3 linked regions of the Homo sapiens genome follow. The protein of the gene in region 1 interacts with the protein of each later gene in a pairwise test. Each region holds a gene or a part of one and is shown in the gene's direction. Other genes may lie near its edges.

The links.
Region 2: the proteins of SKAP1 (region 1) and PTPRC interact in a two-hybrid assay, tested with the Homo sapiens proteins (one study listed by BioGRID).
Region 3: the proteins of SKAP1 (region 1) and SH2D4A interact in binary tests that used the Homo sapiens proteins (3 or more experiments, as listed by UniProt).

The regions. Positions count from the first base shown.
Region 1 is NC_000017.11:48,133,215-48,144,323, reverse strand, and holds the end of SKAP1 (src kinase-associated phosphoprotein 1), read left to right. Parts: intron 1-6,986; coding exon 6,987-7,088; 3' UTR 7,089-7,095; intron 7,096-10,507; 3' UTR 10,508-10,882; downstream 10,883-11,109. UniProt on the Homo sapiens protein: Positively regulates T-cell receptor signaling by enhancing the MAP kinase pathway. Required for optimal conjugation between T-cells and antigen-presenting cells by promoting the clustering of integrin ITGAL on the surface of T-cells.
Region 2 is NC_000001.11:198,751,781-198,759,826, forward strand, and holds the end of PTPRC (receptor-type tyrosine-protein phosphatase C isoform 1 precursor), read left to right. Parts: intron 1-468; coding exon 469-591; intron 592-813; coding exon 814-992; intron 993-2,488; coding exon 2,489-2,624; intron 2,625-4,125; coding exon 4,126-4,401; 3' UTR 4,402-5,696; downstream 5,697-8,046. UniProt on the Homo sapiens protein: Protein tyrosine-protein phosphatase required for T-cell activation through the antigen receptor. Acts as a positive regulator of T-cell coactivation upon binding to DPP4.
Region 3 is NC_000008.11:19,314,425-19,325,533, forward strand, and holds part of SH2D4A (SH2 domain-containing protein 4A), read left to right. Parts: intron 1-4,919; 5' UTR 4,920-5,123; coding exon 5,124-5,304; intron 5,305-11,109. UniProt on the Homo sapiens protein: Inhibits estrogen-induced cell proliferation by competing with PLCG for binding to ESR1, blocking the effect of estrogen on PLCG and repressing estrogen-induced proliferation. May play a role in T-cell development and function.

The DNA.
Region 1 (11,109 bases):
GTAGTGGGAGAGAAGGTTAGAAATTTTCCATTCATGCTTTAAACATCTCAGCCCTGCAGCCCTTTTCGGGTATACAGCCAAGGGATGAAATCTGGAAAAGACAGTCAGATCCCGGGACCTGTAGGTGCTTTGATTAAGCTCCCAGGCTCCCACAGCAGGATGCATATGGTCTCTGGGACTGTGCCATCCTCCTTACACTTCTGCCTGCTCTTTTGTTTTGAAGGGCAGAGAGTTGATTTCACTCATTTCAGTTCTCATCACTGTGGCGAGGCTTCTACATCTGCAGTCGGCAGGGTCAGTGTTCCCCTGGAGCAAGAGCAGACAGACTGGGAGCCTGGCTTTTGCAGGTACCCTGCTGAGACTCATCTGCTTCCTGTTCGCACCCTCTTCGAGTTGGCAGAGAGCACCTTCCCAAGGCTTCATCCCTACTCCTGGCATTACGACTAAAGAGGGGTGCTACAAAGTGTTAGTCAAAGTTAGGAGCGTTGAACAACCCCCGGGGAGCAAATGCCTTACTGTCCCCTGCAGGTGATGCAGATGACAGCATCTGGCAGGTGGAAGACCACATTTCACACATTTCAGCAAGTTGACTTGGATCAAAAGACTCTCAGACAACACTGCCCACTCTCTGCCTGTGAGATAGCAGAAGAGCTAAAGCTAGTTTTTACGAGTTACAATGTGAGAGGTAGACAGAGTATGTATTTCCCCTTCACAGCAAGGCAACACTACAAGAAAACTTAAGTCAGAAACTGCCCTAATTTCAGTGTCGGAAAATGGACAGTAACATATCTTGTACCAAGAGGAGCTTAAAAATGCCCTGACAGGCTGGGCAGGGTATAATCCCAGCACTTTGGGAGCCTGAAGCTGGGGGATCACTTGAGCTCAGGAGTTCAAGGCTAGCCTAGGCAACATTGCAAAACTCTTATCTCTACAAAAAAAAAATACAAAATAATTAGCAAATAAAAAATAATTAGGCAGTGGCATGCACCTGTGGTCCCAGCTACTCTGGAGGCTGAGGCAGGAGAATCTCGAGCCCAGGAGGCAGAGGTTGCAGTGAGCCGAGATCATGCCACTGCACTTCAGCCTAGGTGAAGGGAGTGAAATCCTGTCTCCCAAAAAAAAAAAAAAAAAAAAGCTAAAGAATTATAGGTAATTTCCCATAAGACGTTGCGAACTGTAGGGAGAAGCTGGCCTGGGAGAGGGAGGAAATGAGGTGTGGTGGGTCAGGCACAGTGGCTCACTCCAATAATCCCAACAAGCAGGAGGATTGCTTGAACCCAGGAGTTCAGGACCAGCCTGGGCAACATAGGGAGACCCCATCTCTACAAAAAAAAAAAAAAAAGTTTTTTTTTTAACTAGCCAGGCATGGTGAAATGCACCTGTAGTCCTAGTTACTTAGGAGGCTGAAGCGGGAGGATCACTTAAGCCCAGGAGTGGTTGCAGTGAGCTATACTTGCACCACTGCACTCCATCCTGGGCAACAGAGCGAAACCCTGTCTCAAAAAACAAAACAAGAAAAGAAGGTGTGGTGTAGGAAGAGGTGGCAGACAGACACATTTAGTTATTTAAGGCTGATTTTCACAAGGCACTTCCCTGGTCCTAAAAGGATCAACTCAGTAGTCTCACTTCTTGTGGCATTTCAGACTCTTATTGTTGTATAAGGAGCCATTTGAGGAGACTGTCTCCAAAGGTAGTTGATCTCTTTCTGCCACAACTAGTTCAATCACCAGGGGAATATCTTGGAGTTAGTTGTAACTAAATCTGCTCAACTAAGAATACAAATTCCCACTGCCCCCTTCATTTCATCATAATCTCATTTAACAAGTTTTTTTGTTTGTTTTGTTTTGTTTTGTTTTTATTTGAGATGGAGTTTCGCTCTTGTTGCCCAGGCTGGAGTGCAATGGCATGATCTTGGCTCACCGCAACCTCCGCCTCCCGGGTTCAAGCAATTCTCCTGCCTCAGCTTCCCGAGTAGCTGGGATTACAGGCATCCTCAACCACGCCCAGCTAATTTTTGTATTTTTAATAGAGACAGGGTTTCACCATGTTGGTCAGGCTGGTGTCGAACTCCTGACCTCAGGTGATCCACCCACCTCGGCCTCCCAAAGTGCTGGATTACAGGTGTGAGCCACCGCGCCCGGCCTCATTTAACAAGTATTTATTTGGCCCCACTCTGTGCTGGATATAGTGCTGAATGCTGAGAACACAAAAGCAAACAAAACCAACAAGGTCCAGTCCTCAGAACTTTCCAACTAGTGATTGACACTGAGACAAAGACAGGCAGATAGAAGGCAGTGTAATCACAAGCTCTTTTCCAGGAAAGCACAGGGCACAGCACTGTGGACCGTGTAACCGGGACCCCACACAGTCAGAGAGTGTCAAGGAGAGGCTTCTAGGGAGTGAGTAACTCAGGAACTGAGATCTGAAGGCTGCTTAGGAGTAAGCCCCATGAAATGAGAAGGGAAGTAGAGGCTAAACAGGCAGAGGAAAGGTTCCAAGGTGAGGGAGCCTGTGGCCCATGGGAGCAGCTGAGACAAGTTCTATTTTACTAAGGAACACTAAATCTAGGAGGTGAGTAACAATGCTGAACAGTGAGTGGGACTGGGTCATGCAGGGCCTTGTCTACTTTGTTAAGAAGTTAAGGGGTGGCCAGGCACAGTGGCTCATGCCTGTATTCCCAGTACTTTGGGAGACCGAGGCAGGCAGATCACCTGAGGTCAGGAGTTCAAGACCAGACTGGCCAATATGGTGAAACCCCATCTCTACTAAAAATACAAAAATCAGCGAGGTGTGGTGGCAGGCACCTGTAATCCCAGCTACTCAGATTGAACCCAGGAGAATCATTTGAACCCAGGAGGCAGAGGTTGCAGTGAGCTGAGATCGTGTCAGTGCACTCCAGACTGGGCAACAGGGGCTATGGCTCAAAAAAAACAAAAACAAAAACAAAAACCAGTTAACAAGGGGCATTGGGAACCCACCGAAAGTTTCCAAGCAGAGCAGTGACATTATCAATGTGTACTGTAGGGAGCGAGTCTGGCTGCACAATGAATAGAGTGGAGAAGAAGAATGCTGATACAGAGATTAACTTGGAGACTGTTTCTGTAGTTCTCACGTGAGACGATAGCTACATGACCCTAAGGCATTGGCAACTGGGAACGGAAAGAAGATGGAGGATTTTAGTAATATTTTAGAGGGAGAATCGACAGGACTCAAGGATTGATTAGAAGAGGGGGATGGGGCTGGGCGAAGTGGCTCACACCTGTAATCCCAGTACTTTGGGAGGCCGAGGCGGGTGGCTCACCTGAGGTCAGGAGTTCGAGACTAGCCTGGCCAATATGGTGAAACCTCGTCTCTACTAAAAATACAAAAATTAGCTGGCCATGGTGGCACGTGCCTGTAGTCCTAGCTACTCGGGAGGCTGAGGCAGGAGAATTGCTTGAACCTGGGAGGTATAGGTCGTGGTCAGCCGAGATCATGAGATCACACCACTGCACTGCAGCCTGGGTAACAGAGAGCAAGACTCCATCTTAAAAAAAAAAAAAAAAGAAGAAGAAGAAGAAGAAAGAAGAAGAAGGTGAAAGTGAAATTGGGAATGACTCCTGAGATTCCAGCCTGGGTAACAGTGCATTGTAGTACAACTCACTGAGATAGAGAACCAAGGAAGCAAAGATAGCTTTGGAGTCAGGATGGAGGTGAAGGCAGGATTACATGTTAAATTTAGGACATACTGAGTTTGAACAGCTTGGTGGAATGCACTTGGCTATTGGGGTCCAGTACAGACCTGGGGTGGAGCTGTGGTCATGAGTGATAAACACAGACATGGTGGATACTCTACAGAGATATATGGGATTGCTCTAGTAAAGCGCATCAAGACAGAAGAGAAGGCCAGGACAGAACCCTGGAAAACAACCACATTAAAAAGCAGAATTGAGCAAGATGAGCCTGCAAAGGAGAATGAGAAGAAGTAGAAGTAGAAGGAGAGAAACCAGGAGAGTATAATTATCATAGAAACTAAGAGAATAAAAGGCCTCAAGGAGGACCAATAGTGCCAGCACTGCTGAGAGATCAAGTAAGTTAAGGACTGAGAAGTGCTCAGGGAATTTGAGCAATGCAGAGGTTACAGGAGACCATGGAGAGAGAGCCTAAGTAGAGGACGGCAACCAAGCCTGATGAGAGCGGCTTCAACAGTGAACAGGAAGGAAGTTGGAGCAGTGAGTGAGTAAACTTTCCCAACAAGTGTGGCATAGACTAGAAGAAATGGGAAGTAGACATCAGTGGCAGCTATTTAATGGTTGTTTTAAAAAATGAGAGAAACTTGAACACCTTTCAGTGCTGGTGGAAGGAGCCATTTACTTTACAGGCAATGGTCAGTCTCCACAGAACCTCATCTCTCGGAAAGGAAGGAGGAGGGTTGCAAGTGCGTGTTGTGAGGGGTAGTCTTAAACCAGGGGAGGGGTGCTTCCCCGACTTTAATGGGAAAGAAAGATGGTTGTCAATACAGGTAAGTTCCTGCTTTGGTGGCTGGTGGCTGACAAATCTGATGGCTTCTCTTTTCCCTTTGAAGGTGGAGAAGAGGTTGTCAGAAGCAACATGAGTTTGAGGAGGGGAGATATTAGATATCATAATTCTATGATAATTATATGCATCCAGAGATAAAAAGATCACCAGATAATGCTAGGGACTCTGAATTTTACATATCACCAATCTGGTTTTACTTCTTTTGTTTTGTTTTTCCTAATAGTACTCAGCAACCAAGTGTACAAAGAAGCAGTTAGCTCTTTGGTACCCCAAATCCAATTGAACTGGAATATGTGATATTTCCCATACTTAAAATTTCATTCGGGGCCAGGCACGGTGGCTCATACCTGTAATCCCAGTACTTTGGGAGGCTGCGGCGGGTGGATGACGAGGTCAGGAGCTCAAGACCAGCCTGGCCAACATGGTGAAACCCCGTCTCTACTAAAAATACAAAAAATTAGCTGGGCGTGGTGGTGCACACCTGTAGTCCCAGCTACTCAGGAGGCTGAAGCAGAAGAATCGCTTGAACCCAGGAGGCAGAAGTTGCAGTGAGCTGAGATCTCACCACTGCACTCCAGACCGGGCAAAAGAGCGAGACTCCATCTCAAAAAAAAAAAAATTTATTTTGGCCAGGCACAGTGGCTCACACCTGTAATCCCAGCACTCTGAGAGGCCGAGGTGAGCAGATCACGAAGTCGGGAATTCGAGACCACCCTGGCCAACAGGGTGAAACACCGTCTTTACTAAAAATACAAAAATTAGCTGGGCGCAAGCCTGTAGTCCCAGCTACTCAGGAGGCTGAGGCAGGAAAATCATTTGAACCCAGGTGGTGGAGGTTGCAGTGACCCAAGATTGTGCCACTGCATTCCAGCCTGGGCAACAGAGTGAGACTCTGTCTCAAAAAAAAAAAATTTTTTTTTCATTCTAATTTTACTTCTTTCAAAAGAAAGAAAACATTTTCTGGTGCTATCAGAAATAGCCCCATACTCAGAGTGGGCACAGTGGCTCACGCCTGTAATCCCAGCACTTAGCAAGGCCGAGGCTGGTGGATCACTTGAGGTCAGGAGTTTGAGACCAGCCTGGCCAACATGATGAAACCCCATCTCTACCAACAATATAAAAAATTAGCCAGTTGTGGCCAGGCGCAGTGGCTCACGCTTGTAATCCCAGCACTTTGGGAGGCTGAGGCGGGTGGATCATCTGGGGTCAGAAGTTCAAGACCATCAAGGCCAACATGGTGAAACCCCATCTCTACTAAAAATAGAAAAATTAGCCGGGCGTGGTGGTGCGCGCCTGTAATCCCAGCTAATCGGGAGGCTGAGGCAGGAGAATCGCTTGAACCTGGGAGGTGGAGGTTGCAGTGAGCCGAGATTGCGCCACTGCACTCCAGCCTGGGAGACAGAGCCAGACTCTGTCTAAAAAAAAAAAAAAAAAATAGCCGGGTGTGATGGCACGCACCTGTAATCCCAGCTACTCAGGAGGTTGAGACAGGAGAATTGCTTGAACGTGGGAGCCGGAGGTTGCAGTGAGCTGAGATCTTGCCACTGCACTCCAGCCTGGGCGACAGTGCGAGACTCCGTCTCAAAAAAAAAAAAAGAAATAGCCCCATACTCTTCAACATCTGCTGTGCTTTTGAGAAGCTTTTCTGTATTCAAGGAGCTGCATCCTCACTCTGTGACTACCCCTTAAACTCTCTTTAAAACCCTCTCATCCTCTTTCTTGTTTGTTCCTCTCTGTGACTAGCCTGTCATTATTAATGTACCTGTCACCTCTCACCTGTTCTAGGGAAAGAATCTAATGTTTAGAGCATCTACTATGTATCAAACACTTTCAGTTGTTTTTACTTCAGTGATACAATTTACATCCCCACAAGATAGAAGGGAGATATTATCCCTACTCTCACAAAGAAGCTAAAGCTAGGAGAACCTAAGGTCATGTGACTACTAAATGACCAAGCGAGGATTAGATCTCAGTCTGTCTGACTCCAAAGCCCATTACTCTGCTGTAAGCTCCCAAGGAGCAAGCAATCTTCTGATTCATCATTACATACCTCATGGGAACTCAAACAGCACTTTGCACATAGAAGATGCTTGATAAATATTATTGATTTGAACTATGACTTGACCCCTTGAATATCTGTAGTGTTCTGGCAATTTAATGTGTGCCCAACTTTCTCTAAGAAGCCATACCATTCGGCTTGGTTTAAAAAAAAATGCTCTTCAGGTTCAGCAAGGGCATCAAATGTGCTAATTTTACAATGTAGACAGGAAGATGGCAAAAGGAAAGTGCTTGCTCTCTTCCTCTAGATGATTTTTTTAAATTTAATAATCCCATCAGGGAAGTTAACAGTTCACAGTGATAATGGCAACAATGAAACCACCAAACAGAATCTCCCATGCAATCACTAGAATAAATGAGCAGAAGCATGAACAAATTCTAACTGACGCTATCCTCTTTTCACTTTTCAGGAGTATAACATGTATGGCTGGTGGGTGGGAGAACTGAACAGCCTCGTTGGGATTGTTCCAAAGGAGTATCTCACCACTGCCTTTGAAGTGGAAGAAAGATGAAACCCAGGTATCAGAACCATGGCCAATGAACTGCCTAATAGTTGAGTGGAACTTGTGGGCCACTACTTTGTTTCTCTGAAAGATGAGAGTTGCCAGTGAAGTAGCTTTTCTTCATTTCTCATACTAATGCTAGTGATTCACCACTGATGGAAAGAAAATGCCTCTGGAATTGTTTTTTTCTTAAATTTGGGGACAGTGTCACTTAGGATAAGGTTCAACTAATAGCAACATAAAATCTAAACTAAAAATGACTTAATTAACACAGAAAGCCAGGCACAGTGGCTCACACCTGTAATCCCAGCACTTTAGGAGGCCGAGGTGGGCAGATCACCTGAGGTCAGGAGTTCGAGACCAGCTTTACCAACATAGTGAAACCTCATCTCTACTAAATATACAAAAAAAAAAAATTAGTCAGGTGTGGTGGTGGGCGCCTGTAATCCCAGCTACTGGGGAGAATCGCTTGAACCCGGGAAGCGGAGGTTGCAGTGAGCCGAGATCACACCACTGGACTCCAGCCTGGGCAACAGAGTGAGACTCCGTCTCAAAAAAAAAAAAAAAAATTAACACAGAAATGTATTTTTCTCTTCTGCAAAAATCTAGAGGTAAGTGGTCCAAGGTATCCAGTCCCAGGTACCTTTTCTTTTTGTTCTTCTCTGTGTGCCCAACATTCTCAAGGTTACCTCAAGGCCAAGACAGATGCTCAATCTCCAGCCATCCTGTCTGCAACCTACACAGCACAGCAGGAAAGATAAAAGGAGAAGGTCAGGCCGGGCGCAGGGGCTCACGCCTGTAATCCCAGCACTTTGGGAGTCCGAGGCGGGCGGATCATGAGGTCAGGAGTTCAAGACCAGCCTGGCCAACATGGTGAAATCCCATCTCTATTAAAAATACAAAAAATTAGCCAGGCATGGTGGTGTGCACCTATAATCCTAGCTACTCAGGAGGCTGAGGCAGGAGAATCGCTTGAACCCGGGAGGCATAGGTTGCAGTGAGCCAAGATCACGCCATTGCACTCCAGCCTGGGCAACAGAGCAAGACTGTCTTGAGAAAAAAAAAAAAGAGAGAGAAAAGCATACCCTCTTCCTTTAAGGGTACTTCACAGATGTTGCGCACACACTTCCTTTCACATTCCATTGGTCAGAAGTTGGAATATATGGACACAGCAAGCTGTAAAGAAAGCTTATAGCCCTGTGTCCAGCTTAGAATTGGGAGATTCATGATTAAATACAAAGGGAAGAATGGATATTGGGATAAAACTAGCAATTTTTGCCACAGGGATGGATCTAGGTTTATCCCCAGCTCTCAAACCCAGGGCACCATTTCCCCAAAATCCCCACATATTGCAATATGACTGACCAAGATTAGGAATCCAATATGAGGATTCCTTATATTGGAACATATGAAATATTGGAACTATGGAACATAATCAAATTAACTTTTAAGTAATAGAGAATATGGTTTGCAGGGCCAGGCACAGTGGCTCACACCTGTAATCCCAACACTTCAGGAGGCCAAGGCAGGAGGATCACTTGAGATCAGGAGTTTGAGACCAGCCTGGGCAGAAGGTCTCTACAAAATTTTTTTTAAAAAATTAGCCACGTGTGGTGGTGCACGTCTGTAGGCCCAGCTACTTGGGAGGCTAAGGTGGGAGGAATGCTTGAGCCCAGGAGGTTGAGATTACAGTGAGCCATGACTGCACCACTGCACGCCAGCCTGGGTGAAAGAGCAAGATCCTGTCTCAAAAAAAGAAAAAGAATAGGTTTGTGTTGTATTAGCAAGAACCACATTGTGTTTCAAAATAGTGGGGGTGGGTGCCTGGTTTGGGTGGAGTAATAGTGGGAGCCACTTTGGTGCAGAGTGGGTTTTGGTTAGAATTAAGATTCTGATGGAGGGCCCCCAAGACCAGCATGTTGTCACTAGCTCCATCTTCTGGCCTGAAATAGGAGCAGTCTTCACTGCTGGGGGTAAAGAATGGCATCAGTGTGACAGTGATACAAACATTCCTTGGAGTCCAGACCAGAGCCCACTCTAGTGTGCTGCAGCAGCTGAGTGAACTCATTTAGGAAAATACATAAGGATAGATCTTATTCTCCAATGCCCTTGTACAACCATACAACACCAGCTCAGGCCTGTCACTCAAGGTTTGACTTTATGATTTTCCTGATGAAGACTGTTTCATGGCCACAAGTATAGAGGGTTGGAATTTTTCTGTCAAATCTAAACAAATCCAGCCAGCCGGGCATGGTGGCTTACACCTGTAGTCCCAGCACTTTCAAGGCCAAGGCAGGTGGATCACTTGAGGTCAGGAGTTCGGGACCGGCCTCACCAACATGGTGAAACCCCATCTCTACTAAAAATACAAAAATTAGCCAGGCATGGTGGCGGGCACCTGTAATCCCAGCTACTTGGGAAGCTGAGGCAGGAGAATCACTTGAACCTGGGAGGCGGAGGTTGCAGTGAGCCGAGATCGCGCCATTGTACTCTAGCCTGGGTGACAGAGACTCCATCTCAAAAAAAATAAATAAAAATAAAAAACAAATTCACCCTTTTCACTCTGTCATTTATTTGTTTATCTCTTCATTGTCTTTGGCCCAACAAATCTATTTCTAAGAATTTATCTGGCCAGGCGCAGTGGCTCACGCCTGTAATCCCAGCACTTTGGGAGGCCAAGGGGAGCAGATAACGAGGTCAGGAGTTCGAGACCAGCCTGACCAACATGGTGGAACCTCATCTCTACTAAAAATACAAAAATTAGCCAGGCGTGGTGGCGGGCGCCTGTAACCCGGCTACTCAGGAGGCTGAGGCAGGAGAATTGCTTGAATCCACGAGGCGGAGGTTGCAGTGAGCTGAGATCAAGCCACTGTACTCCAGCCTGGGCAACAGAGCAAGACTCCATCTAAAAAAAAGAATTTATCCTATTGACCATTTTTGGTTTGGGTAAAAAAAGAAAAAAAAATAGAAATTATCCTACAGCTATACTTGCACATATGCAAAATGACAGGCACATACGGTTCATTGTAATAGCAAACACTTGGAAATGACCTAAATGTTTAACAGAGAACTAGTCAAATAACTATAGTACATTCATAGAAGTGAATATTATGCAACAGTAAAAAAGAAAGGGAAACTGTGTGGAATACATTCTGAAATATGTTGGTAAGTTTAAAAAAAATAAAACAGCAAAGAATGGGAGCCAAATTTGCCCCATTTGTATAAAAAAGGACTGGAGACTATATATACCTATTTGTTTATATTTGTATGGGATATTTCTGGAGGGAGACATGAAATGATAACATGGTTGCCTCCAAGGACAGAGAAACTGTGAGACAGGGTAAGGGGGAAAACATTATACTCTGTGCCCTTTAATACATCTATATTTTGAATCACAAAAGCAAATTTATGTATTTTTCCTCCTTTAGGAAATATATTCTTCCCTCTCTCCTGCCTTTATGAGGAAACTGATCATCAAAAGTTCCCACTCCCTACTTCTGCCACCCCACCAACGCCTTGGACTCCTCTCTTTGCTGAAGAGACCCAAGTCTCTTGACACCTCAGAGTGACTGTAAGCTACCAGTAAGACAAGTGGGAAGAGGCACGTTCATCAAACCTGTTACTAAACCAGCCTAGTCATAGCTCATCCCCATCTCTAAATGTGTCCACACAACCACATCTGCCTTTTCCACAAGCTTTTCACAAAGAAGGTGAGAGAGAAGGAAACCTTGGGAGGAGGACATTACTGGTTGTTCTGGCTGGTTTGAAAAGCACAAATAAACTTGGGATGTGGTTCCTTGCCATGTGTGATGATGTTGAGCTCCTTTTTGTAAGATGATATCAATATGTCAGCTCTGGGCATTTTTACCACCTCCCAATAAAGTGGAGATAGCATGAGAGAAAACAAAAGCCCAGAGAAAAAAGGAGACTTGGAATTGTCTTTCAGAGCAGAATCTTCTCTGGAATCCACGTCTATTGTTTATTTTTTGTCTTTTTTTTTTTTTCTGAGACAGAGTCTTGCTCTGTTGCC
Region 2 (8,046 bases), on another chromosome or scaffold:
TATGGTGTTGGTCAACAAGATGACAGAGACAAAGCTCCAAAAGATGCAGCCTCCTTCCTCAAGAACCACTGAAGGGACAGTGGGACCTGAGTTATTGAAAGGGTCATGAATAACATTGACTCATGCCAGCCATAAATATTGAAGAGGTCATGATAAGCATGTGGAAAAGAGGAGCAAACCTCAAAGACCTACACTAAGGAAAACAGCTGTTCCGGGGGTGTCCCAGTCACCTCGATTGTGCTCAGCTTCCCTTTTCTTACACAAGGAAACACCACATATTTATTAAATGGGTCGCCAGCACTTAAATAGATTCTGGATTTTTATAAGTAGGTTTCAATTTTAGAACACAATAATTTTCATTTAATAGAAAAGAGGCACAGACAGAGAAAGAAAGGGAGAAAGAGGGAGACTGATCCTTTGCATATTTCAAATAGGAAACAAATTGTTGAATTGTCTTCTTTTATCTAGGAAATCTGTGCTCAGTACTGGGGAGAAGGAAAGCAAACATATGGAGATATTGAAGTTGACCTGAAAGACACAGACAAATCTTCAACTTATACCCTTCGTGTCTTTGAACTGAGACATTCCAAGGTATGGAAACAATTTGGGGAGTATATTTCTTTGATATAATGGATCTGGTAGCAAAATGAATATAAATTACTCTATGCAGGCAAGGCCATCATATAAATAATGTTTCAGAATAACATTTTAAAATTATTTAAATAGAAGTAACTGTGAAGAAAATATGACTATCAAATTAGAAAATAAGCTGAACTTCACTCCAGTTAATGCTCTCTTCAATTCTGATTTTAGAGGAAAGACTCTCGAACTGTGTACCAGTACCAATATACAAACTGGAGTGTGGAGCAGCTTCCTGCAGAACCCAAGGAATTAATCTCTATGATTCAGGTCGTCAAACAAAAACTTCCCCAGAAGAATTCCTCTGAAGGGAACAAGCATCACAAGAGTACACCTCTACTCATTCACTGCAGGTGCGTGGGATTTGGTAGAATGTGCTCTCAAAATCATAATGCTTGACTTCTCGGTTCACATGTTGTCTTATCTAGTTATCCTCATATATGAAACACATAACCACAGTAAAAACTTCTTATGGAGTCGGTCACTCTCTTGGTTGTTTCCACAACACAACTATTGTAGAAATATAATAGAAGTGATTATATTATAGTGCAATAATTTTAAGTTGTGTTTTTTAATACTTGGTGTCATGTCATCTTTGATTCCTTGGTAGCTAACATTGAGCCAGGAATGTCATTTGTGTGAATGAATTAATGAATGGAAGGGTGTGTGAACAGATAGGTAGATGGGTATCACCTTACACATATACCCATATACATTGATCTACTCTATTAGGTGTCACAAAGACACCTAATATGTTTAATGAACACAAAGTTTATTAAACATATTTTAAGTTAAATATTAACTGAAATCACAAAGCTTAGCAATTTTGATTTGAAACTCATTATTTAATTTTCTAAACTGAACCAAAGGCAAAGATTGTGGTAATATCAATAATACTACTAGATTTTATTAGTTTCTTCATCTGTGATAGGTGCTTACATATTCACCTTAAATAAGCAATATAATTGAAAGAAAGATATATAATATAAAAGTTTACATGAAAAAGAATATTGAAGTAAATGAGAAACGAAAAATAGTAAAGTAAAATGAGAAATGTTTATCTAGTGAAAAACTTTTGGAATTTTTGAAAAAGTCTAATTGTTATTATTGGAATTGCATATACTAGAATCAAGCCTTAAGAAATATATGAATTTTCAGCATTTATGTGGAAAGAAAGCTGAGGAAGGGAAGTTTACACTGTAAAACTATATATGTTTCTTAGAATATGATTTATGTACAATAACTAAAGTGTCCTGCTGATAACATATTGTTTAAATTGAATCTTTATGATAATGCTTTATACTTCTCATTGTTTGGTAAACTATTTGATTGCCCTCTTTTTAGTGAATAATTCTACTAGGTATTACTTTTCTACTGATGCAGAAGTGAAAACATTTGTGAAACGTGGTAGAGAGGCAGAAGAGTGAAGAAGAGCATGTGTTCTAGTAATTTACAAAATATTAGGTCTAATATTTCTGATTACATCAGCTTTCTCTTCTCCAAATCTTGGTTTCCTTATCTATCATACTGGCATTCTGATATTGGTTTCAACAACTTCAGATGTAAATAAAAATGCATTAAAATCCATAAAATACTAAATAAAAGAAAATATATTTGTAAAGTCGAAGACAAATAAGTTTTCAATTCCAGGATTATCACACTCTTAAATTGAAAAATTTGCCTAAAAATGCATTTAGCGTAAATAATTTGGTTCTTGAAAGAGGTTGGAATAAGATAATTATGATAAACATGAAGCAAAAAATATATTCTCTCTCTTCCTGTTTTTATTCTAATATCACCCTTTTTGGTGAGAAGTAGGATTATTTTCTATCTTTTCTTTCTTTTATAGGGATGGATCTCAGCAAACGGGAATATTTTGTGCTTTGTTAAATCTCTTAGAAAGTGCGGAAACAGAAGAGGTAGTGGATATTTTTCAAGTGGTAAAAGCTCTACGCAAAGCTAGGCCAGGCATGGTTTCCACATTCGTAAGTATCCTTCACCATTGCTTTTAACATGCTCGGAATTTTTTTTTTCTTTTTGACGGTTTCCTTTTTTCTTTTCTCCTCTCCTTTCCTCTCGTTTGTTCTTTTTTCCCCTTTCCTTTTCTCTTCTCTATTTTCTTTCCTATTCTTTTAGCTTTTCTACTTTTACATGATAATTCACATTAAATTATTATAAGTCTAAATAAGAGCCTAAAGTTTACTAGCACTTTGTTGTGACAGTTCATGAAGAGCCTTTCCCTAAATGCTCATGAATTTCTTAATTTTCTTTCCTTCACTCCTGTATCGATTTGTGTTGTGTAACAAACCACCCCCAAATTTGGGAGCCTAAACAAATAACATTTATTATGGTTCAGTAGTCTAATGATATGCTGGAATGTTCTGCTGGTGCCCTCAGGCTCAGGCAATAGAGACCAGGCTGACTCATGTGTCTGCCTTCAGCTGATGTGTGCCCTACAGTTTGGCTGGTCTAAAGTGACCTACACTGCCAGTAGGCTGGCATGTGGCTGCCATTTAGCTATGGCAACAACAGTGAGTGGGCCACATGTCCCTCCTCATCCAGAAGACTAGCCCAGGCCTATTCACATTAAAGCAGCAAGTTCCACAAGGGAAAGAAGACTTGTGTGAGACCACTTGAGGCCCAGGCTTAAAAGTGACACACATGTCTTCTTCTGTATGTTATTAGCCAAATAAATAAGTCATAAAGCCTGCCCAGATTCAAGGGGTAGGGAAATAGACTCCACTTCTTGAGAGGGCCTGCAAATTCACATTGCAAAGAAATGTGGATACAGGAAGGAAAATAAGTTTTATATTCTTGTAATCGATCTATCGTGTATACCCTCTATGTGGTAGTAACTGTAGATGGTCATCTGGGAATTAATCCTTATTCACAGTGTAAACTTAATTACTCACTAAAATATATAAAGCTTTTAATCATGTATGATATTGAGATTTCATATCTTGGTACTTAAAAATGTATCAAATGCTTGCTATGTGCTCTTGCTATAAAGAGCTAATTGGTATGAGGGAAAGCCAGGTATTTACTAATCAATGTAGTGAGTAAAATGACAGAAAAATTATAAGAAGAACATGAATGAGGGCATTTAATTTAAACTTTAGGAATCAAGAAACGCTTCTCGAAGCAGTGATTCCTGCCCTGATTCTTAAATAATGTGTAGGCATTAGACAGGAGGATAAGTACAAAACGTGGCATCATGAGCAAAGGCATGGAAATGGCCCATGAGCGGAGTGAACACTGGTTTGGGGTTGCTCCAAGGTAAAGTTCAAAAAGTATCCTGCAGTCAACCCTTTAGCACCATAAAGAAACTAAATTATTTAGATGTTTTTATGAGAACATATCAAAAAGTACTTTTCTGTCATCCAATACTTCCACAAATAAATCATTAGTTCTTGCTAATCTTCATCTGGCATAAAAATAATGACATCAACTTTCTTCATGTAATTTCCCACTTAATTCCTTTACTAGGAGCAATATCAATTCCTATATGACGTCATTGCCAGCACCTACCCTGCTCAGAATGGACAAGTAAAGAAAAACAACCATCAAGAAGATAAAATTGAATTTGATAATGAAGTGGACAAAGTAAAGCAGGATGCTAATTGTGTTAATCCACTTGGTGCCCCAGAAAAGCTCCCTGAAGCAAAGGAACAGGCTGAAGGTTCTGAACCCACGAGTGGCACTGAGGGGCCAGAACATTCTGTCAATGGTCCTGCAAGTCCAGCTTTAAATCAAGGTTCATAGGAAAAGACATAAATGAGGAAACTCCAAACCTCCTGTTAGCTGTTATTTCTATTTTTGTAGAAGTAGGAAGTGAAAATAGGTATACAGTGGATTAATTAAATGCAGCGAACCAATATTTGTAGAAGGGTTATATTTTACTACTGTGGAAAAATATTTAAGATAGTTTTGCCAGAACAGTTTGTACAGACGTATGCTTATTTTAAAATTTTATCTCTTATTCAGTAAAAAACAACTTCTTTGTAATCGTTATGTGTGTATATGTATGTGTGTATGGGTGTGTGTTTGTGTGAGAGACAGAGAAAGAGAGAGAATTCTTTCAAGTGAATCTAAAAGCTTTTGCTTTTCCTTTGTTTTTATGAAGAAAAAATACATTTTATATTAGAAGTGTTAACTTAGCTTGAAGGATCTGTTTTTAAAAATCATAAACTGTGTGCAGACTCAATAAAATCATGTACATTTCTGAAATGACCTCAAGATGTCCTCCTTGTTCTACTCATATATATCTATCTTATATAGTTTACTATTTTACTTCTAGAGATAGTACATAAAGGTGGTATGTGTGTGTATGCTACTACAAAAAAGTTGTTAACTAAATTAACATTGGGAAATCTTATATTCCATATATTAGCATTTAGTCCAATGTCTTTTTAAGCTTATTTAATTAAAAAATTTCCAGTGAGCTTATCATGCTGTCTTTACATGGGGTTTTCAATTTTGCATGCTCGATTATTCCCTGTACAATATTTAAAATTTATTGCTTGATACTTTTGACAACAAATTAGGTTTTGTACAATTGAACTTAAATAAATGTCATTAAAATAAATAAATGCAATATGTATTAATATTCATTGTATAAAAATAGAAGAATACAAACATATTTGTTAAATATTTACATATGAAATTTAATATAGCTATTTTTATGGAATTTTTCATTGATATGAAAAATATGATATTGCATATGCATAGTTCCCATGTTAAATCCCATTCATAACTTTCATTAAAGCATTTACTTTGAATTTCTCCAATGCTTAGAATGTTTTTACCAGGAATGGATGTCGCTAATCATAATAAAATTCAACCATTATTTTTTTCTTGTTTATAATACATTGTGTTATATGTTCAAATATGAAATGTGTATGCACCTATTGAAATATGTTTAATGCATTTATTAACATTTGCAGGACACTTTTACAGGCCCCAATTATCCAATAGTCTAATAATTGTTTAAGATCTAGAAAAAAAAAATCAAGAATAGTGGTATTTTTCATGAAGTAATAAAAACTCGTTTTGGTGAATTCTGTAATAGCTTATCATGAAGGTCAAACACAACCTTTAGATTGGTTTGGTTTTCTATATCTTTACTCTTTTGTCTGATTTTATATGTCTTAACTATACAGCACCGATTATTGTCCATTCAACTCACATTTATTTTGTGTCCCTACTTCTAATTATTTCACTATTGTAACATATAAAATTAACAATTAACCCTTATAGTAGTATATAGATCCTTGTGCTTATTTAACAGATGAAAAGAAGTAAATTTTACAATGAAGCCACAGTTTCTAATTTATATTAAGGTTACTTATTACATCTTTACTTATTAATGAGAAAAGGGGATTAGAATCACCAATTATGGGCACAAAAAATAAAGTTTGCTTTCACTTACCTCTTCAGTCACTCAAACTATTATGCATTCTTTTCTTTTATTGAAACTTGATCAGTTGCCATTTTCTAGATAATGTAGTTAAAATTTGCAGTTCTCATGTTCAATAGAACATTATGATGTATGCCTACTTTATCTGTTAATTGCTTCAAAATACAAATAGCAGAAAGTCTAAATAATCTACAAGCAAAGTTTTTCTTCAGAAGTTTCAATTGCAAGTAACATCTTCCAAATGTAGTTGTGTGTTTTAAATGTGTTTTCCACCTGACACTATCTTTTGAAAGATTAAAAACTACTTAGAAAATAGAGCAATAATAATTTCTATTAGTTTAAGAATCAAGCTTGAGACTTTTTTTCTACATATGGGAATTTGTTGTAAAGAAAGAGATGAAATAGTGGCTCAGAAAGCCCACTACTTTGTGAGAACATATACTAAACCGAAGGTGAGACCCATGGCACTAGAACATGGAATTATATGTCTATGATTTTTACCTGTAGAAAGAAATAATATGTGAATTATAGGTCTATGTCTATGGCCATGGGTTGCATTAATGGGGATCTGTTACAAGGTATAAAAGATTTATTTGCTAAAGTTTGGCACTGCCATTATTAATTCTAGGATCCAGTCAGAAATATTAAGCAAAAAGTTTTGACTTACAAAAGCCTGGTACACTGTAGGGATAATGTTATGAATCCAGAACATTACATTTATTGGGCAAAAAGAAACTTCTAGGTTTCTTTTAAAGTTGTTTGCTTTATTCCTGGTATTAGAATTCAATGGGAATAAAAGATACATTTAGTAAGCCTAAACTTCAGGTCCCAAGCTATTAATTGTGTACATAAGTGACAAATAAATATTTTCATTTAAGAGATATATATATTTTAATATTTTCTTGCAAGAGGAAAACTGTGTAAAGTGATTAGCTGAACATCTGTCTTTGCAAAGATAATTTTAAATGCGTTAAGCTTCCCCTCAGAATTCTTATATTTGTACAGAGAAATTTTCCTGTTTTTTTCCCTCTAAAATATTAAACATAAAATTTATTTTTACAACTAACTAGGACTGATCTTAATTTTAGATTTATACCAGATATTGGTTATAAGATGATTTCATAACACCATATTAGATCTGAATAAGTGAATGCTATTTGCTCCTAGCTAATTGCAGCATGTTTCTTGATATGAAGACCTTAAAATATATCACTTCAAAGGAAATGAATATCTGTTAAAATGAGTAGAAAAGGCTATGCTTTCAATCTCCTACACAAATTTTACATCTGGAATGATCTGAAGGTTCTTCAAAGACATTCAAAATTAGGCTTTTTTATGTCCTGTTTTAAGTGAAAATATTTATTCTTCTAAGGGTCCATTTTATTTGTATTCATTCTTTTGTAAACCTCTTTACATTTCTCTTTACATTTTATTCTTTGCCCAAATCAAAAGTGATTCCTAAATTTTAATTATATTTGTAGGACAATTAAAAGCTTTTGATAACTTACAACAAATGAATTCTTGTTTTTTGCTAAGATCCCGTAAAGAAAACTCTTCTTCTTTATTCAAACTATCCATGATTACTTTCTTCAAAATGACATGAAATTTGATTGTCAGATAAAATACAAGGCATTGGGTTACATTCGAATTTTAAATGAAACAAGAATAGTTTTTTAGTGCAAGTATGTCTCATGCAGTATTTGGGACATATTTGCACCAAAAATTGTTTCTTGTTTATTAGAAATTTAAATTTAACTTGGCATCCTATTTTTTTTAATCTCGCAGCTTTAACATGAAAGAATCAACTATATCTACTTCACTTAAAAGAACATTTGTAGTTCTCCTTGCAGAGAGAGACTTCACCTCTCTAGTTAGCTGTATTCCTAAGCATTTTATTATTTTTGTGGCAATTGTGAATGGGAGTTTGCCTCTCAGCTTGGCTATTGTTGGTTATAGCAATGCTAGTGATTTTTGCACATTGATTTTGTATC
Region 3 (11,109 bases), on another chromosome or scaffold:
GCAGCGCCGCCTCCCTCGGGCTGCAGCGGCGGGGCTGGCCCAGACCCAGACCGGGTGCCCAGTGCGCTCAGCCAAGCGGCGCCCCTGCCCGCTCCTGGACTCGGGGGTCACGCGGGCACCGGAAGGAGCTACAGTTTGTAGGTTTTCTGAGTTGTCTCTCCCTTCCCAGGGAGCTTAGAGAAGCAGCAAGCGTGGCACCTCCCCCTTTCAAACAGATGCTCCTCATCGCTCCAAAGGCTTTCGTTTGATTGCTGGTTTAATAGAAACAACGACTTGGGTACGATTATTTTAAAATAGTGAATAAATAAGTGGAAAGCATACAGGGGCATAGATTTGGCATATGAGTGGAATTCTCTATGTATACTAAATCTGTGTGTACAGTAATCTCAAATTTCTGAAGAATAGTATATATTTACAAACTGCTGTCATCTCTGGTAATTTGTTTCATCCTCAAAAACAGCCCTTTTGCTGGTAGATGAATAAGATAAAGTTTCAATAAGAAAACAAAGTTGGACCACAGAGCTGGCTGTTTTAAAAGAATTAGAATTCAAACTGTATTGTTAATGTTATAGTTACACTGTCCATACCACAATACTTTTATTTATTTTTTATTTTATTAGGTCGGTGCAAAAGTAATTGCGGTTTTTACGTAAAAAAAACCGCAGTTACTTTTTTTTTGGCCATGTAAAACACAATAACTTTTGCACCGACCTAATGTTTTTAATTTTTGAGACAGGGTCTCCTTCTGTCACCCAGGCTGTGGTGCAGTGGTGCGATCTCGGCTCACTGTAGCCTCAAACTCTCCAACTCAAGAGATCCCCCCACCTCAACCTCCCAAGTAGGTGGGACTATAGGTGCGGGCCACCACGCCTGGCTAATTTTTATACTTTATGTAGAGACGGAGTTTTGCCATGTTGCCCAAGCAGGTCTTGAACTCCTGAGCTCCAGCAATCCACCCATGTCCACCTCCCAAAGTGTTGGGATTACATGTAGAACCACTGTGCCCGCCTACTATTTTTATGATTTAGCCTGTATCTAAGGCCTTTTAAAATTGTATTTTGTTTAGGTCTCAGAGTTATTCAAAAGACAGTTGTATTGTAGAACAGTGTGAAGGTGTGAGAATCAGGCCAAATCTATGGTATCATGGAAAACAACGGATTCTCTGACCTTTTAGCAATTGGTGTTCAGAATAAATAGCAGGTGTGGGCTTGTTGCTTATCATTTCTCTCTTTTAAGAAAGGGGCTGTGTTAGCTGAGCTATTCCTTTGTTGGATCTTGAATAACCGGAGATTTGCTGCCCTTGATATAGTATGGGAAAGTCCTCTGAGTTTGAATCAGTATCAGCAATGATTACTTCCTTGTCAGGGAGTGAAAGTAGGAAAGCCCTAGTTAGTTAATTTCCTGATTTCTATTTCTTCTACCCTGGCTCCACCAGGCTCCTTCGCTTCACAGTAGATTATGTCAGATACCCACACATTAGAAGTCACAGACTGAACCAGTCCTCGTTTCACAGATGAGGAAACTGAGTCCCAAGGAGGTGAGGTGACAGCACAGAGTCACACCGCTCACTAGAGGCGGAGCTGGGAGTTGAGGCTGGAGTGCCTCTGGGTGTCTTGGGTGTACTGTGCTGAGCTTGAGTTGGGGTCTGAGAAAGCCTTGGAGCGGGGGTTAGGGGTTGGGAATTAGAGGGTGAGGGGGACAGGTGATTTACACCAGTACCATTCAGCAGTGGCAGAATGGCCACATCGTCAACGGCCTGACCACAGATAGTTGTCGGCTGGGTCCCCCAAGTATTCTTGGAGGCACAAGGAAGCCAGTGTCTTTCCTTCAAGATGAACTAGTTAATTTTAATGTTAGAAATCCACGTTTGCTATAAAAAGTAAAACAAAACAACATAAAAATGGAAATAATGTGAGAATTTCATCACAGAGGTGCCATGAACCTCCTTGCACATGTGAGAGGCTGTGCTTTTTGTGCTGTTCTTAGTGTTTGTTTGGAAGGGGAAATTGTAGAGACGAAGTGGATGACTAAGTGCAAGGGGAAATGGGACTAAGTGTCTGGTGAATACGTGGGTAAGCAATGTCCACACCTGGGTCAGTGTGACAGTCGGTTCCTTGCTGTCCTTCCTGGCTGGGGTGTGTGCACCTGGCCTCCCCTAAGCTTAGCTACAGTTGACCAGGAGGAGGCTTCTGCCCTGTGTCAAGCACCATCAGTTCAGCGTTTCTGTTGCTGCAGGAATTTGCTGGCTTCCATTCTGAAATTTCATACATGGCACCACATCCTGCTGTTCTGATTCTGGGCACACAAATAAACTCACAAAAAGGCCTCTGTGTTGTGTATTACAGTGAAGCTGAGTTAGAGCTGGACTGCCCGGCTCTGCCGCTTACCAGCTGCTGACCTGTGCTCTATCTTCCTAATCTGTGAGATGGGCATAGTGATGGGCTGGACTCCAAGGGTTATTGTGAAGATTAAGTGAGTTAACACATGTAGAGTGCTTAATTAAGATGGTGCCTGGTACAAGAAGTGTTAGCTGTGTTATCAGGAATATGCAGGGCGGGGGAGACTGGAGGAATATGACTTTGACACTTTAAGGGTTTTAGATTCTAGGATCTACCCATGCCTTGAATAGGATTCGCTGCATTCAAAATGGGGAACACAGCAGAAGTCTCAACCCCAGCTGAACTGTTCATCTTCTGCCGTGTGTGATTTCTGCGAAAACCAACCATTGAACTTAAGGACATTTACTGGAATGTCAAGGAGTCATTCTGTCTCCTTTCTTACCACTTTATCTTGGAGCTTGTGGATTTCATTGGCTCCACCCTTTGAGAAGCTGCTAGAAACAAAAAGTCAAAAGTCAAGAAATCTTGACAAGACATCCATTTTTTTTTTTTTTTTTTTTTTTGGCTGTTCAAGCCTTTAAGGGTATCTCAATGCAAAATACAAAGTTGGCAAGTGGATCTGGGAAGGGCGTGATATTACTTTTAGTCCTTTAAAATTTTTCTCTTAATGTTTGGTTCCATTTGGATTCTGGTAGTTGAATGCTGCCGAGATGATAGGTTGCAGTCAGTAGGGATAGGTGTAGTTTCATCAAGGGCCTGGCTTCACAATGAACAGTCAGCGAATCTAAGAGCTGAGTATGCACACCACTCTGTGGTAGCCTAGCTGTTGAGCGTGCTTGTCTCAAAAGACAGGTGTAAATCAAGGAACTACTTTGCACGGAAGAGGAGGAAGACGGGAAGCTGAAGGAGGCCCCCAGATGGTGAGAGGGGCATTACAAATCTAACTGTATCAATGACAAGGTGAACGAAGAGAAACCAACAACACTACGATGGTCATAATATAGCTAAGTGACTTGTCTGAAGTTTAAGACTGTTTGAACATAGTATGGAGAAACAACGTATTTGAGAGCACATGGCAAGGTGGTAAGATTATTGAGGTGTTATTATAAATAACAAATTATTGGTCAATTTCTTTTTTTTTTCTTTTTTTATTTTTGAGACAGAGTCTCCCTCTGTTGCCCAGGCTGGAGTGTAGTGGCGCGATCTCGGCTCACTGCAACCTCTGCGTCCTAGGTTCAAGCGATCTCCTGTCTCAGCCTCTTGAGTAGCTGGGATTACAGGCACCCACCACCATGCCCAGCTAATTTCTGTATTTTTTGTTTTTTTAGTAGAGATGTTGGTCATACTGGTCAGACTGGTCTCGAACTCCTGACCTCGTGATCCCCCCTCTTTGGCCTCCCAAAGTGCTGGGATTACAGGCGTGAGCCACCCCGCCTGGCCTATTGGTCAATTTCTTAGGACACATGTGATTCTGAAAAGTTGTAGTAAGTTTTTTTTCTTATATCTTATTACATCGAATCCAAAGTCTTTTGTTTTCCAGAATAGATATATTTACATAGTTTCCTGCTGATTACAAAAGTATGATGGTTTATGGGACTTAGAAATTGTTTAAAAATAGAGAGAGAAAGTATGACAGTGTGGTAATATTTTTAAGCCAATATTTTAAAATAGAAATGTGGAAAGTAGAATGAAACCTCAGTAGGATTTCCAACCACAGGAGAACTTCTAGGAGGCCACTGTGCACTCTCGCTTTATGGTTTCTCTTTCAAGGAGCCATGCGGTAAAGTCATATAAATGAAGGATCCTTTGTTATGAACCTAATGACCTCTTCATCCCCCTAGTTTATCTGGTCTGTCCATTTAGATTTTATTAAACTAGGTTATCTGGAAAAAGCACACCTAAAACTCGGTGACCTTCCAGAATGTAGATGGATGTTCTCTCTTGCACCTGCCCTGATTTTCATGGCTCTAGTAGGTTATCTGGAAATTACATTATCCTTTTGTGAAGAGGAAAGTACATAATTTTGTTTATTTAATGCTACTTTTTAGGGAAATTGCAGAAAATGCATGGTGGTCTAGTTTTTATTTCTTCCTTTTTCTTCCTTGAGCATGGCTCTATTTTGGTTTGGTTTGGGATGAGTTACTCTGTGACATATCAAAAGTGGTATTTTCTTTTGAAATAGGTACTTTGCAGAGAGCCTTTTAATTTCTTCCTGTGACTTTTTTTTTTCTTTCTTTTTTCAGCCACACAGTTGGTGGTTTGTTAGGCTCTGGGGTAATAATGTGTTTGCTTAGTTGGGAGCTGGACAAACCTCTGTGAACTTTTTTTGTTTGCCTGAGATTGACCTGTATAAAGTTAGGGTTTGTTTTCTTTTTTTTTTTGACAGAGTATCTTTAGAAATTACAGGATAGAGGTTATACAAACTCTTAACAAAGTGTGCCTCAGATTTTCTTCTTCTCTTTTCTCTCTGAACTGAAAAGTGATACTGTGTTTCCTCCTAGCTTTTTTTTTTAAACCCGTCCTAGCCAGTGTCCACACATTTTAACACGCTGCCTGAATGTGGGCTCTTTCTCTCTGCAGGTTCAGTGAACAGCATTTTGGACAGGACATTTGGTGCCAGGTCTGAGTAGCCAGTTTGCTGAATTATTGTCCCAGTCAGCCAGGATTGTGAGCTGTTTGGGAAGTTTCGTGGAAACGCCCAAGTGCCAGCACAGGTGGAGGGACACCTGGAGGCCAGTTTCAGGAACTTTTGCCACAAGTATAAAAGACTTCAGAAGTGCAAAGATGCTGAAACAGATACTGTCGGAGATGTACATAGATCCTGATCTACTGGCAGAGCTCAGCGAAGAACAGAAACAGATCCTGTTCTTCAAGATGAGAGAGGAACAGATCCGACGATGGAAAGAAAGAGAAGCAGCTATGGAAAGAAAGGAGTCCCTGCCAGTGAAACCCAGACCAAAGAAAGGTAAACTTATCCACGTTTCTTCTGTGGATGTGTTGGTAGAACAGCTCCTGGCTTGCTTTGACAATTTCACACTAGTCACAAGCAAAGCAGGTGCAAGTTCCAGTTTGGCAGATGAATCCTAAATGTTATTGAGAATCTAATAGTGCAGTATGTCCACCTGAAGTCTACACACACACACACAGCATTCACCATGGAGTTGCATAGCTATGAGGAAATCTTTTACTTGAAACCAGACTAACCTGAAGCTGTATTAAAAAGTCACCTATGAGGTTTGATTTGAGGGGTATTAAGAAAGGTTTCTATCTCCTTTATTGTTACTGGTTCCTAATATGCTACTACTAGAACACAAAGTTCTTGTGTCAGTATATTTATAGCAATTGTGTTTGCATTTCTTAGACCTCAGAGATTTTTCTTTGAGGTATCTTTTTAGGGAACACCTCCTGTTAAAATGTAAGGAATTGCTATAAGGAAAAAAATCATAATACTATCTTTTTTTAGTGTGAATGAGTTTCTCAGATGTAAACTTTTCCTCGTTATCAAAGGAATCTCTGGTAGTTTGAGAGGGTTCTTTTGAGACCATGGGGGAGGAAATCTTTGTACATTAAGACTTAAAGCAGACAAGGTGCAGTGGCTCATGCCTGTCATTGCAGCACTTTGGGTGGCCGAGGTAGGAGGATCACTTGAGTCCAGGAGTTCTGACCAGCCTGGAAATATAGTGAGACCTTTTCTTTAGGAAAAATAAAAAATTAGCTGGGCATGGTGGTACATGCCTATAGTCCCAACTACTTGGGAGGCTGAGGTGGTGTAATTGCTTGAGCTCAGGAGATCGAGGCCACACTGAACTGAAATCACACCTCTGCACTCCACCCTGGGTGACAGAGTGAGACTGTGTGTCAAAAAAAAAAAAAAAAAAAAAAAGACTTAAAGCATATACACATACAGACACAGAAAAATACACATTGTCCACCCTCCTCACTCCGTTCTCACTAACCCCCACACCCCCGCCTTGCTGTTTACATGCGAAGTCTGTCATGGGTGAATACCAAAGTTGTGAAAACACAGCACACTTTTCAAGGTCACTTGCAGAGGCATCTAAGACCGTCTCTTTTCATGTTTCATTAAACCAGGAAAATAAAATTTTGTAAAATCACATATGGTTTCAAAGATTGAGAAAATGAATCTCTCTTGCATCCCTGGTATATGCCCAGGTTCACAAAGGAGGTCAGTGTAGCGTCCTTTACTTTTTACTGTCTTTTATTAAAACTTTTTTCCAGTGATGCCTTTATCATGACAAGGAAATAAACAGAAATATGTCATTTCCTCTTGTTATGATCAATACAACTATTTATGAAACACCTCCTGTTTCAGACACTATGTGAAGCACATTTATGCATATAATGCCTAACCTTCACAAAACTTCTGCAAAGTCAGCAGTGACAGTCCTGTTTTACAGATGATGAGACTTAGAGAAGTTCATTTTTTTTTTTGCTTGTTTGTTTGTTTGAGATGGAGTCTCACTCTGTCGCCCTGGTTGGAGTGCAGTGGTACAATCTTGGCTCAATGCAACCTTCGTCTCCCGGGTTCAAGCAATTCTCCTGCCTCAGCCTCCCAAGTAGCTGGGATTACAGGCATGTGCCACCACACCCAGCTAATTTTTGAATTTTTAGTAGAGGTGGGGTTTCTCCATGTTGGCCAGGCTGGTCTTGAACCCCAGACCTCAAACGATCTGCCCACCTGGGCCTCCCAAAGTGCTGGGATTACAGGCCTGAGCCACTGAAGCTGGCCATGAAACTTAGATAAGTTGAGTAATATATGCAAGGTTATACCACCAATAGATGCCCAGTTCTGTTGGATTTTACATTATTCTGCACTATCCAAAATACAACTTTTCCTCCAACAAATAACATGGCCAAACTGAAACATAACTCTTTTTCTTTCTAAACTGGTTTATGCACCTTCTTGGATTCCCCAGTCAGAGTTTTTCAGATATAATTGGGTCTCTTCTGGGCACCATGTTCACTGTGAACATAACATATATTAGTGTGATGGGGTGACCTTGGGGACTAGCAGCCAAAGGGTTCTTGCCACTAGAGTCAATGGCCCAGACTCTGTTAGACTTTGGGTTTCTCGTGTTTGCTGAATTGGTCTCCTTGTGATGACTTAAAATAATAATTTCAGTTTCTTTGCTTACATTTCTCGCTTGTAGGGTTTTGAATCTACCTCTCAGAAACCCTGTGTTAACTTTGTTAGTCAAATGATCATGAGAAAAGTATGTTAATATAAGTGGGGAAAGTTCTATCAATATCTCACGTCAAAAGTGTATTACTCCCTTAAATTGAAAACTTGGAAAAATATATTTTGCATTAAATTAGTTCCTCTTCTGACTACAGAAAGGGAAAAAGTTACTCCCACTTCCCCTAAAATCCCATCACTTCTCTTTCATCTTGCGCTGTCTTTGAAGATAAAGCCATAGACCGTCCAAAGCAATGCTGTCATGGCTGGTGCTGCCAGAGGTGCTTATCTGTGCTGCAGACCTGCTAAGCCCATGACCCTTGTGGGTTGACAGGTCACTCGTGCATCTGATCCCTGAAGGCTTGTGCTCCCTGCCTCCCCTTCTCCCGCCTTTCTGGTTAGTACTGAGCTAAGTGCTGCTTTTTCTTAGCAGTTCTTAGCCACACGGTGGTTTTGAAGGTTGTTCATTTCATTAAAAACATCATAGGCCACCCCTGCCATTCCTTGACCCCCTCTAGCTTATCACTTAGAAGTTCCTTCATTGTCATCTGGTCATTTTTCACTACGAATACACAGACCCCTGTGCTTAGTGTTTGGGGATCATCACTAAAATTGTTGTGTATTGTGCATCACAGAAACTTGTCTATTATTCTTTTTTTTTTTTTTTTTTTTTAAAGACAGAGTCTTGCTCTGTCTCCCAAGCTGCAGTGCAGTGGTGTGAGATTTCAACTCACTGCAACCTCTGTCTCCCTAGCTGCAGTGCAGTGGTGTGACATTTCAACTCACTGCAACCTCTGCCTCCCAGGTTCAAGCGATTCTCCTGCCTCAGCCTCCTGAGTGACTAGCTGGGATTATAAGCACCTGCTACCATGCCCAGCTAATTTTTGTATTTTCAGTAGAGACAGGGTTTCACCATGTTGGCCAGCCTGGTCTTGAACTCCTGACCTCAAGTGATCCACCCACCTCCGCCTCCCAAAGTGCTGGGATTACACGCATGACCCACCGTGCCCGACTTGTCTACTTGTTAGTAATCTGAAGGCTGAAGTAGAAGGGGCTGAAAAACTATCAGCATGTGAATTTAACTTAGTACTATATGAGAAGATCATTTCTGATTTCTGTAGTGGGAGAATGTGATACTTAGGGAGAGACGTATGGATCTACTCTGCTTGCTGGGGTAGCTAGAGGTCTACAGCCGCACCGTCCAGTGCAGTCACCACAAGCCACATGTGGCTCTTGAGCACAGGAAATGAGGCTAGTCTGGATTGAGGTGTGCTATACATGTAAACTACCGGATTTCAAAGACTTGGTAGAAGGAAAAGATAATGCCACATTAATAATTGTATATTCCTTATATATGGAACTGATGATATTTTGTATATCTTGGGTAAAGTAAAATACTTAATTTCACCTGTTCCTTTTGATTTTTTTTTTTTTTTGAGACAGAGTCTCTTGCTCTGTCTCCCAGGTTGGAGTACAGAGGCATGATCTCAGCTCACTGCAACCTCTGCCTCCTAAATTCTAGCGATTCTCCTTTCTCAGCCTCCCAAGTAGTTGGAGTTACAGGTGTGCGCCAGCACACCCAGCTAATTTTTGTATTATTAGTAGAGATGGGGTTTCACCATGTTGGCTAGGCTGGTCTCAAATTCCTGACCTTAGGTGATCCACCTGCCTCGGCCTTCCGAAGGGCTGGGATTACAGGTGTGAGCCAGGGCACCCGGCCTCCTTTTGATTTTTTTAATGTGGCTACTAGAAAAGTGATAGTTATGGATGTGGTACACATTTCTGCATGCTATAATGGTAGCACCAGCCAGCATTCAATACGCTTAACTGGGTATCAGACCCTGAGCATTGAGATTAAGTATATTGTCTCACTAAATAATCACAGCTAAGCCTGAAGTGTGTGTTGCTATTCACTTTTCACAGATGAGGAAAGTCAAGCTCAGGGACGTTCATTAACTTGGCCAGGGCAAACAGTAAGTGACACAGCTGGAATAGATCCTGGGTCTCATTCTCCCAAAGCCAGCACTGTAAACAAATAAACTACACGTAGAGCTTAACTGGAGCTTAATGACAGTGACTTTTGTCTGAAGCTACCTTCACTGGACCTTAATGACAGTGACTTTTATGTGAAGGCGCCTTGCGCACATCTAAAACATGTGCTCGCGTCAGGAATCTGCCACAGAGCCTTCTTCTTGGGTGATTTTATTGGGTAACGCAAACAGAAGACGCCTTCGCTTAGCAGCGTGTTTCCCAGCACTTGTTTCATGGGGTCTATGTCAAGTTGATGGAAACCTAATGCAATGGGCTGAGATCTGGTTGCTGTGCAAGGTGCGGAAGGGGCTCCTCTGTGTGCCCTTGAAACAGACTTGGATTCATACAGCTTTTTTTGCTGCGTTCTCATTGTTCCCAAGGGGGCAGATCCTTTATGAAAAGCTTTCCCTCTATTTTTGTGAAATAATGTTAAGGCCATTGGTTCATGCCATTGACAGTGTTTGCCTCCCTGTCTTTCCCTTTTGAACTCACTGCATGCAGTAGGGCTATCAGCACAGGGGCATCACCTGCTGGATTCCTTCCTTATCTTGATCAATTCCTCAGCCGCCTCTGACTCTAGATGCCTCTTGGTGTCTCTCTCTTGGAGTTGCCGCCCAGTCACGAGTGTCTTGCTCTCTCCCTGTTTCTTTTTTCTTCTCTGCCTTCATCTTGAATATCTGTATTCCCCAGGGGGTGCCTCACACTGCACTGGTGGTTTGTGGTTTTGAGATGAGGCTGGGGGATCATAGACTCCTTTGAAAATTTACTGAAAGCTTAGAGCTAGGAAAATGCACAGAGACACCATTCTGTGTATAATCTCACAATGTTCATAGACTCCCTGAAGCTCATTCATAGACTCTCAGGGGTTCGCAGATCCTAGGGTAAGGTGAAAGTTCTGATTATCTCCCTAGGGCAACTCTTATAACCTTTAAACGTGAAACATCACCTTCATGCCAGTGACTCAAACCCAGATTGCCAAGCCAGACCTCTCACCCGAGTGTTGGTTGCCTGGTGAGCACCTCCGTTCAGAAGACCTGTAAGCCTTGCAAGCTTGATGCAAAACCCAATTCACCAGCATCACTCCAACTCCCTCCGGCGTCTGCTGGTCCTGCCTTTTACTCTCTATGATGATGGGTGGTATTGCTCTGTTCCCAGTCACCAAAACCAGAACTCCAGGAGCCACGCTGTTTCCTCCCTGACCCTCACTCACCCACCTAGTCTCTGATGCCTTGGGTTTTGCTTCATCAGTCCCATTCCATAGAGATTTCCCACTACCAAGATACTGTTCTGTTAGGATGTGCCAAGCATAAGATTTGTATTCATATGATTTCATTTAATCCTCACAAGGATCCGGTCAGGTAAATCTTGCCCCCTTTATTGTTACAAATAAGGAAACATACTTAGAGACATAATTTGCATGAGTCAGTGGTAGAGTTAGGATTTGAACTCAGATACAGTTCAACTCCAAGTCTGTCCTGAACTACTGGCCCTGAGCCCCACTTTTCTGTTCCCCCAACTCTGGGCTTTATAATTAAACTGGGA